Homo sapiens: one gene and its partner. The protein of the gene in region 1 interacts with the protein of each later gene in a biochemical or structural test. Each region holds a gene or a part of one and is shown on either strand. Other genes may lie near its edges.

The links.
Region 2: the proteins of NCAM1 (region 1) and SPTB form a complex in vitro, tested with the Homo sapiens proteins (one study listed by BioGRID).

The regions. Positions count from the first base shown.
Region 1 is NC_000011.10:113,272,131-113,276,045, reverse strand, and holds part of NCAM1 (neural cell adhesion molecule 1 isoform 2 precursor), read right to left. Parts: intron 3,114-3,915; coding exon of another isoform or gene 2,298-3,113; exon of another isoform or gene 2,145-2,297; intron 780-2,144; coding exon 659-779; 3' UTR 1-658.
Region 2 is NC_000014.9:64,796,213-64,800,127, forward strand, and holds part of SPTB (spectrin beta chain, erythrocytic), read right to left. Parts: intron 3,723-3,915; coding exon 3,535-3,722; intron 1,635-3,534; coding exon 1,517-1,634; intron 504-1,516; coding exon 345-503; intron 1-344.

The DNA of each region.
Region 1 (3,915 bases):
TCTGAATACTGCAAATTGAGATCTACCCCCAGAAGCTGCAATTTGGCATTCGTCCTATAAAATAAGAGTCTACGTGGGAATTGAATTCAGCTAGAAAGGGTGACACACTTTGCATACTGAACAAATACAAAGTGAACAGAAATTATAACTTATTTATGAGGTTTTACAGAGTTCAAACTTGACTGAAAGTATAAAAATAAACTGTGGACTTTGTTCATTCGATTAGTCTTAGTGCCTGAAAGTATTTCTCTGAAACTGGTCTGTGCCAATCGGGTAACACCAAGTGTGGTCTTCCTGAACCTAGATTTCGTTTCTGAGCTTCCTAGATTCTTAATTTGGGGTCCTTTTGTTTGATTTTTTAACGGTTTCAGGGAACGGAGTGTCCTAGTTTGGCTGTGGGTTTAACCTTTTTGTCTCATTTTCTTACAAGTGAGTGTGCAACAAAGGGACCCTTTCTATAAACCTACAAAAAGGAGATTCCCATGTTTTATCTGTTTAGTTTTTTTTAAAGGCAAAAGACACTAGAGAAATGAGATGTGTGTGTGTGCATGTGTGTTTGTGTGTGTGCGTGCGTGTGTGTGTCTGTGGTGTTGGAAATGCTCTGGTGAAGCTGCTGTGTCACTTTTTATTTTGATCTTTGCTCGGTTCTCTTCACCCATCATGCTTTGCTCTCGTTCTCCTTTGTCTGTGTGGCGTCATTGGGGACCGTCTTGACTTCGGCTGGCGCTGGCTTCGTTTCTGTCTCCTGGCACTCTGGCTTTGCTTCTACGGGGCCCTTCCTGCAGAGAATCAGGAAAACAGAACCACTGAGACCACGGTCTGCAGACATCTCGCCCCTGCATCCAGGCCTTGGGGACAGCAGGGAGGAGGAGGGGTTCTCCAGTGACAGCACCCGGCTCCAACCTCTGCCCGTCAAATCACCTGGGAGCACTAAAAATCACCCAAGCCCGAGCTGTGTTCGCGGAAATCCTGATTTAATTGGTCCGGACACAGTGACTTTTAAAAGCACCCAAGTGACTCTAATGTGCAGCCATAGTTGAGAAGCACTGAGTCAGAAGAACGAGTCCTTTCCTCTTCCAGCCCTAAGTTGATGCCAGAGGCTGTGTTTTTACCTGGGGTGGTGGAAGGGGGCAGCAGAGGCAGCTCCTCCTCACCCTGACCAGCTGCAGTGGCAACAGCTCAGCTGGATGTAAATGCAGCCTGCTGGGCTGGGCTGGGCTCCCAGCACTGATTTCAGGGGCCCCTTTGCAACCCACTCTTGCCTGTCCCTTCCCCACCCCACCCTGTGCTGTTGCAGGATGATGCCTCTAGGGCCTGCCTGGGTAGGGTGAGAAAACACTGATGGAGGCAGCTTTTCATGGCAGCCTGGTGGGGTACTAGAGTGGGCCTGGTGGCTATGCGAGAGTTGAGGGCAGCTGAGTGGGCAGGGCTATCAGAGTCCTTTTCCCTCCCGATGCTGAGATTCAGGGCTCCTGGCGAGAGCCCCTTGCAGCCCATGGTGGCAGCATGGCAGCTTATCTGGGGAGCAGCCATAGGAGCCTCTATAAAAATCTAGGTCTGACTCTGCCTCCATCAGTTCCAGGAAAGGGAGTCGGGTCTGAGGATGCATGGGGACAGGCACAGACCCCAGCCTCAGCTGGTGCCACTGAATTTTGGCAAGACACTTACAAACCTGAAAGGTTAAGGCCTTTCTCTTGAACTTTGAGACCCAGCAGCCATTTGATGCTGGGGAGCCCCGAGTCTTCCCAGCCACTCTAAGAGCAGGAGAAGCAAGAGTGGGCTGGGGGCCGGGGTTGGGAGGGGAGGGTGAGCATCTGAGCCACAGTGTGAGGGGACCTCTGAACTGCACCCTCCCCTGCCACGGGCCTGGGGCCTACCTCTTTTCTTCCTGCACATCAGTGCCTTTCTGGTAGGGACTCAGCCTGGCACTGAATAACACACCGACTGGGGGCCCCAGGGTGGCTGATAAGGGCACCTTGGCCTTCTTAGCCTGCTTCCCAAGCTATTCTCATCAGTGGCCTGACTGCAAGGGCTCCCCCAGGGAAAACAGAAGCCGCTGCTAGGATGATAAGGATAAAACATAATTAACATGGCCTAATTAGCCAGCAGGCGGCTGCTCCTGGGGCCCAGCTGCCTGTCCTGCTCTCTCTGCCTTATCCCAGCCCCTTGGTTGACGGTCGCCTCAGAGAAGCCCTGGATGAGGCTGAAGACACATCTAACAAGGAGGACACAGCACAGCACAAATGCACACCACCACAGGACACAACCCGATGACAGCAGACAAAGAGAGGCCGTACTCGGTCTTTGCTGGCGCAGGCGAAACAGAGCTGTCTGCAGTGGAAGGAGCAAGCTCAGGGGCTTGTCCACTGGCCCCAGCGGCGGGAGCAGGAGAGCCCAGGGCTGCAAAAACATCCTTTGCAAGGTCAATATCTGGGGTCTTGAAGTTCCCTTCGTCCATTTTAAAGTCCTCGCCCTGGGAAGGGTTTGTGGTGCTGACGGAGGCAGCCTCGCTCTTCGGGCTAGCAAGGGCTGTGGCTGCCTCGGCCGGGCTCTTCGCGGCTCCGGGCTGGGTGGGCTCCGGGTCCGGGCCTTTGGTGCTGGGAGCCTCCTGCTTGGCCTGAGGGGCTTCTGTGGCAGGGGCAGCCGCTGCTGCTAGAGGACTGGCTGCCCCAGTCGGGGTGGGGACTGGTGCAGGGGTGGGCTTGCTGGCCGGAGGAGCCTTAGAGGCCTCCCCGACACCAGCAGGGGCGCTTGGGCTGAGGACAGCCCCTTGGTTAGCCAGGACACTAGAAGACAAATTGCTAGCGGCAGGGGTTGAGGTCGGGGTGTCGCTCAGGTCAACGAGGGGGGCGACCTTGGGGGCTGAAGCTGGGGCCGGGGAGGGGGCAGAGGCGCTGGGCCCCTTGGAAGGGGTGGCCTGGCCAGCCGGTACAGAGTTTGAGTCAGGCGTGGCCGTGGCCGGCGGGGCAATACTGGAGGTCAGGGTGGTGGTCTCACTGGTGGGGCTGTTCTGAGCAGTGGCAAAGGTTTCGGTGATAGTGTCAGAGTTAGTGGTGACGGTGGTGACAGAAGGCAGCATGTCCTCGACAGTGGCCGTAGTGTCGGCAGGCAGCCTGTGGGAGGACAGGAAGTAGAAGAGAATAGACAATGAAGCTGAGACGTGACAGAGAAGCGAGGAGGAGGGCTGAAGCCCAGGACAGGGACCATGGGGGTGGGGGCATGCAGTTAGGCACAGGCACGGACACAGGCCCACAGAGAGAGAAGGATGCTGAGAGGAAGCACACGCCCAGGTGGGCAGAAGAGGACACAGGAGACGACAGAGAACGTGGCGGTCTCAAAAGGGACCTGCTAGCCCTTCCCTGCTGATGTCTCTCCAGCTCTCTGCATAGAGCTCCCTTTCCCTGAAGTCCTTGCAGACCTGCCTAGGGCTTCCTGATCCCTGCCCTGGATCTCCATTCAAGGAGGGGCAGGCTTCTGTTCAGCATCCACCTGCTCTAGGCTTCCCAGGTCCCAGAGGAACTGGGCCCAGCTGTCCTGCAGGGCTCCCCAGGGCACCGATGGGAAAAGTCACGAATAAGGCAGATCACGAGTACTCAGAATGGCTCATAGGAGCTGTGGGTTCTTCCAGTCACAGATTTTGTGGTTCCCTGAAACTCCATTCCCTTTAAGCCCATAAGATCCTTGACAGCTAGGCAGGCATTACAACCACAACTGGTCTGGGGCTCCGTGGGTCCCCGAGGTTTCTGAACAGAGGAGGGGCAGAGAACTTTACCAGGTCCCCAGCTTCCCTTATCCTTTCAGGGGGAAAACACAAAACCCTAGAATTTCAAGAAATCCTAAGCAGACTCTGCTAAGCCTTTCAGTGAGATTTTGCCACCTTAAGCCATTTCCAGAATATGTGTATAACTTGAGAAC
Region 2 (3,915 bases), on another chromosome or scaffold:
CATGCCTGACACAGACAAGGTGCAGTCTGTGATTTTACCATATCCCCCAAGAACCACAATTTAACATCAACTGAAACCCCAGCTGTAGTTGACACTACAGGCCCACATAAGACAACTTCAGCGGCCAGTTCTAGACTCCAAGGCTCTTTCCTAAAAATGAGATTTAATAAATCCTGGAGAGCTCCTCCCCAGATGCAAATCTTGATCCACTGGATCACGGGGGAGCTGTGCTGCAAGGCACGAGGAGAGGCTGTGAGAAGCCAGCTTGGACTCCAGCCCAGCCAAGAGCTGGGGGCTCTGAAGAATGTCCCCTCTCCTGTCACCCAAAGCATGTCCCTCATTACCTGGGCCACGAGGCGCTGGTTTTCACTGAGCCAGGTCTCTCTCATTGCGGCCTTCCGGTCAAAGCGCCGGGCCAGTTGCTCTAGCTTCTCCTGCCGAATGAGCTCATTTCTCAGGGCCAGCTCCCGCCGATACTCAGCTTCCTCCAGGCTTTCCCAGGCCTGCACAAAGGATGGAATGAGAATTCTTGGGGCACAGGAGAAATGCCTCACTTTGGGGGCTCCACCCCTTTCACCCAACACTGAGTGATTTCTGGAATCAAGGTACAGCCTGATGCTCTTGGGTGACGTGGTAGCAGATTAAAGATCAATAAAAGCCTTTGGCTTTCATGTCTGGGCCCATCAAAGATTCAGAGGGCACTGCTCATGAGTCTCACTTCCCTCTTCCCCTAAACCTGCCTCAGACTCTTGGCCCAAAATAATGTTTTTCACCTCTCTGGATGCTCAGTAAGTTCTTATTGACTAATGGCTACCTCCGTTCAATATGAACTGCCAGGTGGTGGTAAGCCTCCAAGCCTCTGAAATGTCATAGGCATTTCCCTTTGGTTATAAGTAGTTAATATTCCATCTTCAAAGACAAACTCAAGGTTCTACAGAGGATAGGCTACAAAACTGGCTCCAAAAAAATGGACTCGGAGGCTGGGTGTGATGGCTCACACGTGTAATCTCAGCACTTTGGGAGGCCAAGGTGGGAGGATTGTTTGAGCCCAGTACAAAACCAGCCTAGGCAACATTGCCAGACTCTGTCTCTATAAAAAATGTAACATTTAGCCAGGTGTGGTGGTGCATGCCTGTAGTCCCAGCTACTGAGACTGAGGTGGGAGGATCACTTGAGCCCAGGAGGACGAGGCTGCAGTGAGCTGTGATTGTGCCAATGCACTACCACCTGGGTGACAGAGTGAGACCCTGTCTCCAAAAAAAAAAAAAAAAAAAAAAAAAAAAAAAAAAAGGACTCAGGGATGCAGGGCATCTGAACAGGGGGATTGAAGGAGGGTGGGGGAGTAGAGTCTGACCCCTCAGAACCAGGTTCGATAACTCCCCCAAATAGTCAACATGTGGATTAATAACATCAAAGAAAGTGGCTTGGTTTAATCTGGTCCAATGACCATTCACTGTGTCCTTATCGGGAATTCAATCAATCTACTGTCAATGCATAACGGAAAATGCTGTGGTACCCTGTTGATGTCAGACACTAGTTTCCCATCGTGGGGTGTGTACACTTTCTGATTGTTGGCTCTCATCCGGGACTGGATGGTAAAAAGTAGAACTTCCAGATTCCCCTTCTCTTGAAACCTGTCAAGAAAACAGAAGTAGGAAGACTGATGTTAAGATCTCATGGCCAAATTTTTTTGCTAAAGTCAACACGGAACTGTGGCATCTTGAAGCGTAGATAGCAAAGCATATTTCCCTTAAAAACACAGAAAAACTAAAGAGAATCTGTAGGTCTGCTTACCTGTTAAAACATCTATCCTTTTCACCAACTGAGATCTATTAGGGGTTTGGGTCTTTACAATATAAACCAGAGAAAACACAATGGCCACCACAGCATTTATCATTTGCCTCTACATGGGAAGCTGAGGTATTCTGGTAATTCCTGTAAATATCAAGTTGTACGGATCAATACAAAAAAAATTTTAAAAAACCTTCTCTGTGCTGCAAGTGATGAGGGCTTCTTACTAGCTCTCTGGTCAGTTCCTTATTAAGTGAGTCAATAAAACCCCAGAAGCAGCATATTCCGTGGGAGAGCATCCTGCACTGAAAACAGCTTTCACCCAGGTCCTAATGAGCCAGATCTCCTGACAAGTCCTACAGGCCAGATGCTTCCCAGAAGGCAGGAAAGGCTGGGCTCTGAGAGGCTTGTAGGTGTAGGAGACAAGAATTGTCAGCAGGATCGGTGTCTAGCATATGGGGTACAGGCTCCAGGTATCAGGTACTTCCACATTTCTGCATGTACCTAAGTGTCCACCCATTTCTGCATCCTTGACCTGGCAGTCAAGGATCAGCTATATGCAAGGTCCCCACCCTGAGCCCAGCCTAATGGATCTCAGTGCTCACAGGCACTTAAGAGAACTGTGACCGTGAAGCACTGTCTACACAGCCAAGAGATAACACCTCTGTGTGCAGTGACTGGTAGACTCATAGAGGATGCTAACTGTATTGGATTTAGGGCTTCAGAAATGGGTTACTGTCAGACTAGAAACCAGATACTTGTTTATAGTATATCCTAGACTCAGCATTTCACCTTTCCCCATTTGAAAGTCATGAATGCAGAGTGTGGGAGATGGGGGGAAGAGCAGAGCAGAAGGTACCATCAATGAGCTAGAAGCCTATTTCAGAGGATCTGGACAAGCTAATGGCAGATAAGCTGGAATGCCCCGTGTGTATGTGTGTATGTGTGCATGTTTGTGTGTGCATGTGCACATGCATGGTTGTATATATGTATGTGCATTTGTACATGTGGTTGTATGTGCATATATATGTGCATGGGTGCATAGTTATGTGTGCACACATAAATGCATGTATAGTTAGGTGTATGTGTATGAGTGCACGGTTGTGTGTGTATGTTTGTGTGTGCATGCATGTTCATGGGTGCACAGTTGTGTGTATGCATGGTTATGTGTATGCAGGTATGCATGTGTGTGCACGGTTGTTTGCATGCACATGTGTGTAAGCATATGCACACAGGCTCTGCACACACTAGGGTGGGGCAGAGGTCCTGAGAAGCAGGCTAAGTGGTCTGTTGCTGAGCAGTGACAGATGGGAGAGAAAAAGAAGGATGAACTTGACAATCCATAAGGCCCCATGCAGAGAGCTCAGGGGCTGAGAGCACAGAGGTCATCAGAAAACAAGCCCACAGCTCAGTGGCAGACCAGAGAGGAGCTTTCCAGCCTGGGTTCTTCAAAGAGACTCAGAAGCCTATGATTTCCCTCCTGTTCCTCCTCAGGGATATCTGGGAGAAGCCACTGTCTTTGGTCGTGAGTCGAGGTTTCTCATCAATGCTGGTTTCTCTAAGCTGATGGCTTGGGAGAAGAGTGGTGAAGAGGGGCACAAGGCAGGTGACACACATACAGCTCTCTAATCTTGAGGGTGTGCCTTGTGGACACACTTCATAAGGCCCAGAACCTGGCTCTACCTTTTGGTGGTCAGTTTCCCAGCCACTGAGGACCACCCTCCCATGTGCCAGGGCCCTTACTTGGGCGGCTTCTCCACGGTGCGGTAGGTGCTGAAGGCCTGCAGCTGCTGCTGGACGCCCGTCAGCGAGTTGGCAAACTTGCGGCTGTTCAGGACAGTGATGGTCTGCTCGATCCAGGTGAGCAGGTCCGAGGCTAGCCCGCTGTACTTTTCAATCATCTTCTCAGTCTCAATGGCATGGTCAATAACCTAAGGAATCATCTTCTTACTTATTCTCATCAGAAGGGCAATGCCACCACTGAGGATATCAATGAGGACCACAATCAAGGTGCCACGAAATGGGGCTCCCACCTCCTAAGCCCTGGAGTGCTCTAGGCTGGGTTTGTTCCCTGAGCCCAAGTGTGCTGGTAGGGCAGAAGGAGTAGACTGGAATTGGGTGAGG